Linked DNA regions of Homo sapiens: region 1 is linked to region 2. The links come from fine-mapping of genetic effects on gene expression. A gene starts in region 2. The other region holds a variant in brackets. All regions are shown on one strand. Distances are between the middles of the regions. Region 1 has its middle 46 kb from the start of LINC00910. Region 2 holds the start of VAT1 (vesicle amine transport 1).

Evidence for each region. PIP is the estimated chance that this variant, and not a neighbour inherited with it, causes the effect.
Region 1: its variant is the best candidate, but not a certain one, in a credible set for the expression of VAT1 in whole blood (INTERVAL, PIP 0.58).

Annotation. Positions count from the first base shown.
Region 1 is chr17:43,340,125-43,345,498 of GRCh38, forward strand. No RefSeq gene overlaps it. Among named protein-coding and RNA genes, the nearest start is that of LINC00910, 46 kb to the right of the region's middle. The variant C/T (reference allele first, on the strand shown) is at 2,164.
Region 2 is chr17:43,019,614-43,024,924 of GRCh38, forward strand. It overlaps VAT1 (vesicle amine transport 1), which reads right to left and starts at 2,772. Exons shown (of 6, transcript NM_006373.4): 1 at 2,323-2,772. The coding sequence starts at 2,709.

The DNA.
Region 1 (5,374 bases), 320 kb after region 2:
GGGGAAGACTCCCATGGATGATGTAAAGAAACTGGTATCCATACCCCCTCCCTAGCCCTTACGAATAGAATACTTGTTGTGGGATTAAAAGTAGCATCAATGCACATGAACAGCTTACAATTATCACATTCTATATTTTGTGTATTGGGAATGATAATTATATTTCCAACCAACAGCATGTAAGGGGGTTTGACACAGCTCCTGATACGTATCACCTGTTCAGACATCAAGGTGATGTTGAATGTGGGTGTTTTGATATTAGTGGGAGAGAGTTGATAGGTAGCACTCCATATCCTTATTCCTGTCATAGCTGCAGCTAATTTCCATAATTCAGGATGTTCTGGGGTAACAATGGGATGAATCATTTTTGGTCTAGAAGGAACAATGCCTGTGTTCATCCATTTGAATGGGTAAGGAGACACCCATTCTCTCAACCTGTAGGACTGCCATCCGTCCTCTAATATTGTAACAAATAATTGAACTCTGAGCATGTCGTATTCTGGCTGGAGCAATCCCGCCAATAATGGCATTACAATTATTCCATAAAATTGAATTCACCAGAAAAGGTCCCTTTGTAGATTCCTTTGGGCAGTCTGGCAGTCCTTTTGTTTTATTGCTGTTAGTAGTGACCAGAACCCACCATTCCTCTTGTGGATTAAGTTTAACAGAAGTTGAAAAGAATTGCTACTGAACACATTATGTACTTGATAAGAATCATTTGTAAAGGACGGTACTGTCCACATCCAATTCTGGTAAGAATAAACTAAACAGCCAGGCGACATCCCAGTGCATAGTGGTGGATATTTATAGCCAATTGACAGATTAAAGTGCATACCTTCTTATTCTGGTTGAGCTGGAAACCTATCATCATTAGGGACCGGCATGAATGCACTATTATTAGTGTAAACTTCTACTGAGGAGTCCATCCAGGAGACAGACTGAATTAAAGGGGGAAAAGAACACATGCCCAGTAGGTATAATTTTGAGTTGCCCAAACTGGTGGTATACTCACCACTGCACTGACTACCATAAAGGCAGCCAGAATTATATTACCTGTCGTTTTGGGGATTCATTTTTCTCTTAATGATTTTTCTGTTGATGGGATAAGACCTTTATTTGACCCCAAGTTGGTGGAGTTAAATGAGTGGTGTTGTAGGTCACACGGCGAGATTTTGTCTCAATGTCGAGGTCATGAAGTTTATGTGTCAGGCGGTGATACTTGCTCTTTGGTTTCAGAGGGGTCTTTGCCTTTTGTTTCTGGGAGTGTTTCTTCTTGGGAGTTATGGTGCAATTTCAGTTGTCGGGAGGGAACCCACACAGGTTGTTGTCCTTTTCCTGGGGAAACACAAGCAAAACCCCTACCCCATGTTACGACAGTGCCTAATTCCCATTTGTTAGTTTTTGCATCCTTCCACCATACGTGCATTCCTTTTTGTGGATCAAATTTATTTCCAGTGAAATGTTGTTCTGCTGTTGTAAAAAGTTGATTTCTTAGTAGGTTTAAGAAATTTCAGTATAAAAGCAGCCAGATTTAACTAACTGAGCATAAGGGGTAGCAGCATCCCTCTGTTTTAGTGTCCTGTTTCCGAAGTTGCTCTTTGAGTGTTTTATTGGCTCGTTCCACCAAGGTCTGTCCTTGAGAGTTATAGGGGATGCCAGTTGTGTGAGTAATTGCCCATGTCTGAGTGAACTTTTTAAAAGCAGCACTAGTGTAGCTGGGGCTGTTGTCAGTTTTTAGTTTCTTGGGACAGCCCATAACCGAGAAACATGAAAGTATGTGTCATTTAACATGAGCCATACTTTCCCCCTGTTTGACAAGTGGCCCAGACAAAATGAGAAAAAGCATCAATAGTTACATGTATAAAAGACAGCTTGCCAAAAGCAGCATAATGAGTCATATCCATTTGCCAGAGAGCATTCTGTGAAAGTCCTCTAGTGTTAACTTCTGAAGAAAGTGGATGTAAAATTAACACTTGACAAGTAGGACAGTGACATACAATGGTTTTAGCTTGTTTCCATGTGAGGGGGAACTTTTTTCAGAGTCCCACAGCATTGACATGAGTTAAAGTATGAAAATTTTCTGCATATGTAAAAACGGGAGCAAGTAATGTATCAGCTCTGGCATTTGCTGCCAAGAGAGGTCTGGGGAGGGTTGTGTGACCC[C/T]GAATATGAGTAATGTAGGAAGGAGAAGACCTTGATCTGAGTATGGACTGAAACCTTTGGAAAAGAAAAAGTAGGTTGTCATCAGGCAGAAATTTGATTCAGGCAGTTTCAATGTTGTGAGCAACATGTACTACATACGCCGAATCAGAAACAATGTTAACTGCTTCAGGGAAATATTCAAGAACAGCCATGATACCAAACAGCTCAGCTCACTGTGCTGAAATAGCTCCTGTGTTAAGAACATGTTCTCTTGGACCCATATATGCTGCTCGGCCATTACAGGAAGCATCAGTAAAAACAGTGGCAGCTTCAGCTAATGGGGTGTTTCTAGTAATGTTAGGCAAAATCCAAGGAGTTTAAGGAACTGAAATAATTTTACATTAGGATAGTGATTATCAGTTATACCCGGGAAACCTGCCAAATGTACTTGCCAAGAGATGCAGGTTGCAAAAGCCTGTTGGACTTGTAATCGGGTGAGGGGAACAATGATTTTTTTGGGCTCTGTACCCAAAAGATGAAGGAGACGAGAACGAGCCTGACCAATTAAGATAGAAATTTGATCTAAGTAAATAGTAAGTGTCCGTAAAGAGCTGTGTGGAAGAAAACACCATTCAATTAAATTATGTCCCTGAATAATGAGTCCTGTTGGTGAATGTTCAGTAGGAAAAATTAGTATTTCAAAAAGTAAATGTGGATTCACTCTGGTAACCTGAGACTGTTCAATGCGTTTTTCTATAAGTTGTAATTCAGAATCCACCTCAGGAGTCAGAGACCTTTTGCTGTGTAAATCAGGATTGCCCCGTAACGTTGCAAAAAGATTAGACATAGCATATGTAGGAATGCCTAAGGAGGGATGAATCCAATTAATATCTCCAAGTAATTTTTGGAAATCATTTAGAGTTTTTAAAGAATCTCATCTGAATTGAACTTTTTTGGGCTTAATAACCTTGTCCTCTAGCTGCATTCCTAAATAGTGATAAGGGGAAGAAGTCTGAATTTTTTCTGGAGCGATAACCAAACCAGCTGCTGCAACTGCTTGTTGTACTGCAGAGAAACAAGATATTAATACAGAGCGTGAAGGTGCTGCACAAAGAATATCATCCATGTAATGAATGACATAACATTGGGGAAACTGATCTCTTACTGGCTTTAGTATGGTCCCCACATAATATTGACAAATAGTAGAGTTATTAAGCATACCTTGAGGTAGGACTTTCCAATGGTAATGTGCTGCAGGAGGGATGTTGTTAAGGGTTGGAACTGTGAAAGCAAATTTTTCAAAGTCCTGAGGGGCCAGAGGAATGTAAAACAAGCAATCTTTAAGGTCAATGATGATAAGTGGCCAATACTTGGGAATCATAGTGGGGGAGGGCAAACCAGGCTGTAATGTCCCCATAGGTTGAAGGACAGCATTTGCTGCCCTAAGATCAGTAAGCATTCTCCACTTACCAGACCTCTTTTGGATAACAAAGGCAGGTGAATTCCAGGGAGAAAAAGAGGGTTTGACCCAATTTTAACTGTTCAAGAACCAAAATATGAAGTGCCTCCAGCTTATTTTTTGGGAGCAGCCACTGATCTACCCAAACCAGTTTCTGAGTTTTCCAAGTCAAAGGGATGGGATCTGGAGACTTGATAGTGACCACTTCTAAAAAGAATAACCAAGTCCTGTAGAATCTGGTTTATGGGTAGGTATAATAGGCTCGGTGATGCCTTGTGCTGATTTTCCCAAGCCCATATCTTGAACAAATCCCATTTTTGTCATAATGTCTTTACTTTGCTGGCTGTAACTGCCTTGTGGAAAAGAAATCTATGTCCCCCATTGATATAAAAGATCTTTTCCCCACAGGTTAACAGGAATGGGTGTAATGAGGGGGCAGATAGTTCCCATTTGTCCTTCAGGGCCCATGCAATGTAAAATTGTGGAGCTTGCATATACTTCTGAAGCGTCACCAACACCAACTAATGCTGTGGACATATGCTCCTTTAGCCAGTGTTGGGGCCATTGATGTAAAGCAATAATAGAAACATCAGCACCCGTATCAATCATTCCCTCAAACTTCCTCCCTTGAATATGCACAGAGCACACAGGATGAGTGTCAGAAATTTTGCTGGCCCAATAAGCCACTTTGCCTTGATAATCTGTGCTACCAAAATCTCTGTTTCTCATACAAGAACTGGATCCTAAAGGAATGTAAGGGAGTATCAGAAGTTGAGCAATGCCGTCCCCAGCTGCCACATTCCAAGGGACTGCAGAGCTAATGACAATATGAATTTCACCTGAATAGTCAGAATCAATTACACCAGTATGTACTTGAGCACCTTTTAAATTTAGACTTGAATGACCAAGTAGCAAACTGACACTGCCAGTCAGTAAGGGACCAAAAACACCTCTAGGAACAGCAATAGGCAGCTATCCAAGCAACAGAGAAATGTCTCTGGTACAAGAGAGATCTATTGCTGCTGAGCCTGCAGTGGCAGGAGACAAACACTGTACTGAGATTCCTGCTGGGGCTGGGCCATTAGATCCTGTGGCACAAATTGCTGAAGTGGGAATTGGGGTGGAGGTTGAATCGATTGGACTGGGAAGGCACCCATCTGGCTGGATGCCAGGGGCTGGGAGTTGAGGAATGCGCCATTGTTTAGAGGGGCCTGGGGCCAGCCCCTCGTTCCATTTCCCTGGTTGTTAAGCGACTGTAAAGGATTACCATCAATATCAAATCTCGAATGGCATTGAGCAGCTCAGTGATTTATCTTTTGGCATCGTGGGCATAAAGTAGAAGGTGGGACTTTCTGTTGTTGAAAAATTTTTTGTTGTTGGTGGTGGTGGGGTTGAAAAGAATGGCAACATGTACACTGGGGACAATTTCTTTTAGCATGTCCTGTCTGGCCGCATATAAAGCATTGGCCAGTGAATTGTCCAGGCGTTCGAATAGAGGCCATGGCTTGTGCCATGATCATTGCTGTGTGCAGAGTTCCTCCCACACCTTCACAGGCTTTAATGTAGGAGGTGAGTATATCACACACACACACACACACACCCATGGAATTTTACCTTTAACAGGGCGAATAGCCACCTGACAATCTGGATTTGCTTGTTCATAAGCCATGAGTTCTACAACAAGTCAATGGCCGTGGCTCAGGGATAGCTTTTTCTGCTGCGTCTTGGAGATGGGCAATAAAGTCTGGGTAGGGTTCATGTTGTCCCTGTCTG
Region 2 (5,311 bases):
AAAGGCTTCCCCCCCACCCCCACGAGAGCCTCTGTGCAGGAGGGAAAGGGGACAAAGATAACAGAACCTTTCTCTCCAGCTTAGCAAGTGGGGTCAAGGGAAGGGCAGGGAAAAGGAGGGAGCGTCAGGAGAAAAGACTTCTCTGCGCTCTCTGAAGAGCATGAAGAGGGAGGTGTGGGTGCTGTTCTGGGACAATCTGGGTCTGTCTTGATCCCTGCCAGGAATGATGGGAATTCTGTATATTAACAAGAGTTAGGGTCCATGGGGAAGGGGGATGGGACTGCCACTTACGCCCTTTTTCATGTCCTCAAGCCCCCACACTCCACTGAATACGAGAACTGAGGGCATGCTGGGGTCTTTCCTTCCAAGTTCTGGCCTGAGATGAGGTCTGGAGAACAAGAACGGAAGCCCTCCACCCAGGGACTCAGGACTAGCAGATACAGAACAACCCAGGAGAGCTGCGAGGAGTGCATTGGTCATTTAGGGTCATGGCCAGTCCCAGATTTGACCCAGAACAAGTCTCACTTACCCTGGCTCATGCTAACCCTCAGGCCATCCAAATCAGGGCCATGACCCCTCCCCAACCCAGACACCAGGAAGGAGGAGGAGGGAGAGAGAGGGAAGGGCCCTCCCCGCAGAATCCAGGCTCTTACATCAGATTCTTGCCCTGGACAGGATATCCTGTATTTACCAGGCGGAAAGTGTATGGAGGGGAGGTGAGGTGGGTGGCCTTCAGCAGTAACATGAACTACAACTACCTCCCGAAAATATTCCTCTTAGACGCCTGCTCAAGAGTGGGATCATTTAGAAGTCAGTTTGAGGGTGGGGCCAGAGCTGAATTCAGAGGAAAGCCTTAAGGAGAAGCTGTTTGCATACAGGATGAATCCAACAAACCTGGCTCCAGAATTGGGCTGGCAGGTCTGCAAGAGGCTGCATCTGTGGGGCCTCTCATTGAGGGGTCTGATTTAAAAAGGAAACTCCTGGCCAAGCGCAGTGGCTTATGTCTGTAACCCCAGCACTTAGGGAGGCCGAGGTGGGCAGATCACCTGAGGTCGGGAGTTCGAGACCAGACTGACCGACATGGAGAAACCCATCTCTACTAAAATACAAAATTAGCCAGGCATGGTGGCGCATGCCTGTAATCCCAGCTACTCGAGAGGCTGAGGCAGGAGAATCGCTTGAACCCGGGAGGCAGAGGTTGCGGTGAGCCGAGATCGCGCCATTGCACTCCAGCCTGGGCAACAAGAGCGAAACTCCGTCTAAAAAAAAAAAAAAAAAAAAAGAAAAAGAAAAAAAAAAGAAACCTCTAAACAAATGGCGTGCTGAGGCCTCATCCCAGGTCTCTCAAAAAGCTGATCATTTTGAGCTCTCTGGTGTCCAGGGTTGTGGCCAAGATTAATGATAAATGAGAAGGAGAAACAGGCCTGCAGACTTGGCCAACCAGTTCAAGGCGCCGCACCTCTCCGTTCCAGTCCAAACCCCTGGCACTGGGGTTTCTGAAGTGGGGGTCCTCTGCAGGAGGAAGGCAGAGGTGGGTCCCCCCTTCCACTCCCCGCCCCAGGCATTCCCAAGGGCAGCCCCGGGTCGTGGCCCGAAGGCTGAGGGCTGAGTCACAGGAGGAGGAGATACTGCAGTCACGGGAGACACAGAGCCCAAGACAAAGATCGGATGACCCAATCCCGCCTCCCCCACCCCAAAATCAGATCGGCGGTGTAAGGCTGGTGGCGGTGGGGTAGCAAAGGCTCTCTCTCCTCCGTGATGGGCGTGTCTCGTCTCTTTGGCCTTGCTTTGGGAGGGGCCGCCTCACACCCCCACAGACCACGGGGCTGCATGTGACCAGGACTCTGGCACGGCCGCTGTGCCCCCGCCCAACCCCGACGACATAGCCCCTCAAGCTCCCTCGGGGAAAGGGGGCACTAACCGTCACTCATAGTCACAGACCACAATTACCCAGAGAGTGTTTGGTGGGTAGGGGTACAGGTGTGGTTTTAATGGGGGGGGGGGGGGGGGGTGGGGACGGTAGTGTGGTTGTGCGCATGCGCATGGGCACCTTATTGTTTTCCCCCCCACCAGCACAGCTTCTGGGCGGCGGCCACAACTAAAAATGGTTGGGGAAGGGGCGATAATTTCGTCTCCCCTCCCCACATAAATGCCGCTCTCCAGGAGCCCCCAAACACAAGTTCCTTGGCTACGCTTTCCACGCTCGTGCACCCAGGTCCGCGCCAGTTTCTCCCGCCCTGCCACACCCCCGGCGCTCGCCCACTCGTGCCCCACTGCCCAGTGGCCTGCGCAGCCCTGCCCTGCCCTACGCAACCCGCTCACCTTGCGGTCGCTGACTCCCTCGCCCACTGCGATCACAACACCCGCGCCCTCCATGCCCGGAGTGACAGGCAGAGGCGGGAGACGGTCGTACAGCCCCTGCCTAGCCATGAGGTCTGCGAAGTTGAGCCCGCAGGCCCGCAGACGCAGCGTCAGCTGGCCGGGCCCAGGGGCCGGGGGCGCTGCCGGCCGGCTCTGCAGCTTCACCTTGTCGTAGCCTCCAAAGCCGGTGAGCACTAGGCAGCGCAGCAGTGGCGGCGAGGCGGCGGCGGCGGCGGCCCCTTCGGAGGCCGCGGGATGCTGGGGGTCGCTCGCTGCCTCGGTTTTCGGAGGCGGCGAAGAGGCGTCTTCCCCGGTCGCTGCCTCGGCTACCTCTCTCTCGTCGGACATGGCTGGGACTCCCGACGAGAGCGCACAGCTGGATGGAGAGTGCACAGCTGGGGAAGGCGGAACGCGTCGGGAAGAGCCGCGGCTGCGGGATCCAGCGGGAGGGGCGGGGCGCCGGGCGAGGCGGGGCCTCGCGCTCAGCCTTAAAGGGCCAGGGCCATAGTGGCGCAAGCTGGGAGAGCACGAAAAGGGGCACCAGGAACGTCTGTGCTCTTGGGATCAAGCCGACTGTGATTTATTTATTCATAGTAAACCTTATTCAAATTAAAAACTATTTTAAGGGATAGGCCTGGCGCGGTGGCTCACGCCTGTAATCCCAGCACTTTGGGAGGCCGAGGCTGGTGGATCATTTGAGGTCAGGAGTTCAAGACCAGCCTGGCCAACATGGTGAAACCCCCGTCTTTACTAAAAATAAAAAAGTTAGCCGGGCGGTAGTGGCGCGCGCCTGTAATCTCAGCTACTTGGGAGGCTGAGGCAGAGGAATCGCTTGAGCCTGGGAGGCGGAGGTGAGCCGAGATCGCGCCACTACACTCCAGTCTGGGCAACAGAGTGAGACCCTGTTAAAAAAAAAAAAAAAAAGGGCCGGGCGGCGTGGCTCACGCCTGTAATCCCAACACTTTGGGAGGCCGAGGCGGGTGGGTGGATCACCTGAGGTCAGGAATTCGAGACCAGCCTGACCAGTATGGTGAAACCCCAGCTCTACTAAAACTACAAAAATTAGCCAGGCATGGTGGCAGGTGCCTATAGTCCCAGCTACTAGGGAGGCGGAGGCTGGAGAATTGCTTGAACCCAGGAGGCGGAGGTTGCAGTTAGCCAAGATCATGCCGCTGCACTCCAGCCTGGGCTACAGAGGGAGACTCCATCTCGAAAAAAAAAAAGGCCGGGCGCGGTGTCTCACGCCTGTAATCCCAGCACTTTGGGAGGCCGAGGCGGGCAGATTACGAGGTCAGGAGATTCACCTGGCTAACACGGTGAAACCCCGTCTCTACTAAAAAATACAAAAAATTAGCCAGGCGTGGTGGCAGGCGCCTGTAGTCCCAGCTACCTGGGAGGCTGAGGCAGGAGAATGGCATGAACCCAGGAGGCAGAGCTTGCAGTGAGTCGAGATCGCGCCACTGCACTCCAGCCTGGGCTACAGAGCGAGACTCCGTCTCAAAAAAAAAAAAAAAAAGTTAAGGAACAGTCCCAAAACTTGAACTTACATCAGATTTGGAGTTAACTCATATCAGATTTGGAGTCAGCCACCTGTGGACTGGAGTCCAACTACATTGTGTCTCAGGCTCTGACATCTAACCCAGGCAGGGATGAGACTTAATTCACTGTGGTCTTGCAGTGGCAAAGTAGAAGCATGGAGACCAAGCCTTTAAAACTTTCTGACTTTGGTGTTAACGTTCTGTTCCTCATTTTCCCTTCTGTAACATAGTGATGATGCTGCGTGCTCTAGTTATATTTATATTTTTATTTTTTTGATACAGGGTCTCACTCTGTCACCCAGGCTGAGCGAGGTGGGGCGATCACAGCTCCCTACAGCCTCAAACTCCCGGCTTCAAGCAATCCTCCCACCTCAGCCTCCTGAATAGCTGGGACCACAGGCATGTGTCACCACGCCCGGCTAACTTTATGTTTTACTGCTCTTTGCAGAGCAGGGCTACCCCATAGGCAGCGTGCCTAGAGTGGCCAAACCTAGCTAAGTTTTGATTTTTTTTTCTAGAGAGAGGGTCTCGCTAATGTTGCCCAGGATGGCCTCAAACTCCTGCACGCAAGCAAGCCTTGGCCTCCCAAAGTGCTGAGTTTACAGGCGTGAGCCACCGCGCCCAGCTTCTAGTTATCTTTACAGAATTATTTGCAGCATATATTATTGACTCGAATTGCCTCGATATAAAAAAGCACTTTTTTTTTTTCGAAACTCTATTGCACAAGCTGGAGTGCAGTGAGGCAATCTCGGCTCACTGCAAGCTCCGCCTCCCGGGTTCACGCCATTCTCCTGCCTCAGCCTCCTGAGTAGCTGGGATTACAGGCGCCCACCGTGCGGGTTTCACCGTGTTAGCCAGGATGATAGTCTCGATCTCCTGACCTCTTGATCCGCCCGCCTCGGCCTCCCAAAGTGCTGGTATTACAGGCGTGAGCCACCGCGCCCGGCCTATTGTCAGACTCTTAATCAAGCCTGACTTTTGGGTTTAGCTCTGGCTCCAGCAGAGCAACTCTGGCGGTTGGTTCTTTCTCTTCCTTATCTCCTTGTCCCCAAGCATCCACCAGAGGACGCAGCTCCCCCAAAACTTTCCACCCAGTGCTTGGCTGGAGGAACTCAGTCCACGCTTCTCTGCTAGTCTAGGCCGGCGGTTAAGTCAATGTAACCGGAGACCCGGCTGCCCGTTGCCATGGGGACGGAAAGCTATGATGTCACCACCGTCCGGGTGGGTGTGCTGGGGTTCACCCTCCCATTTCCCCAAGACCCCCTGCCAGGACATAGGCGGACGCGGGAGAGAAAACCAAAGAGGCTCCCTCCTTCCCCTTAGCATCTCTCTCCCGCCGTGTTCAGGAAGTGGATGGCTGCCCCAGCTCTTGTCCGCACTGGTACACCTGCGTGCACGCGTGGGTACACAGC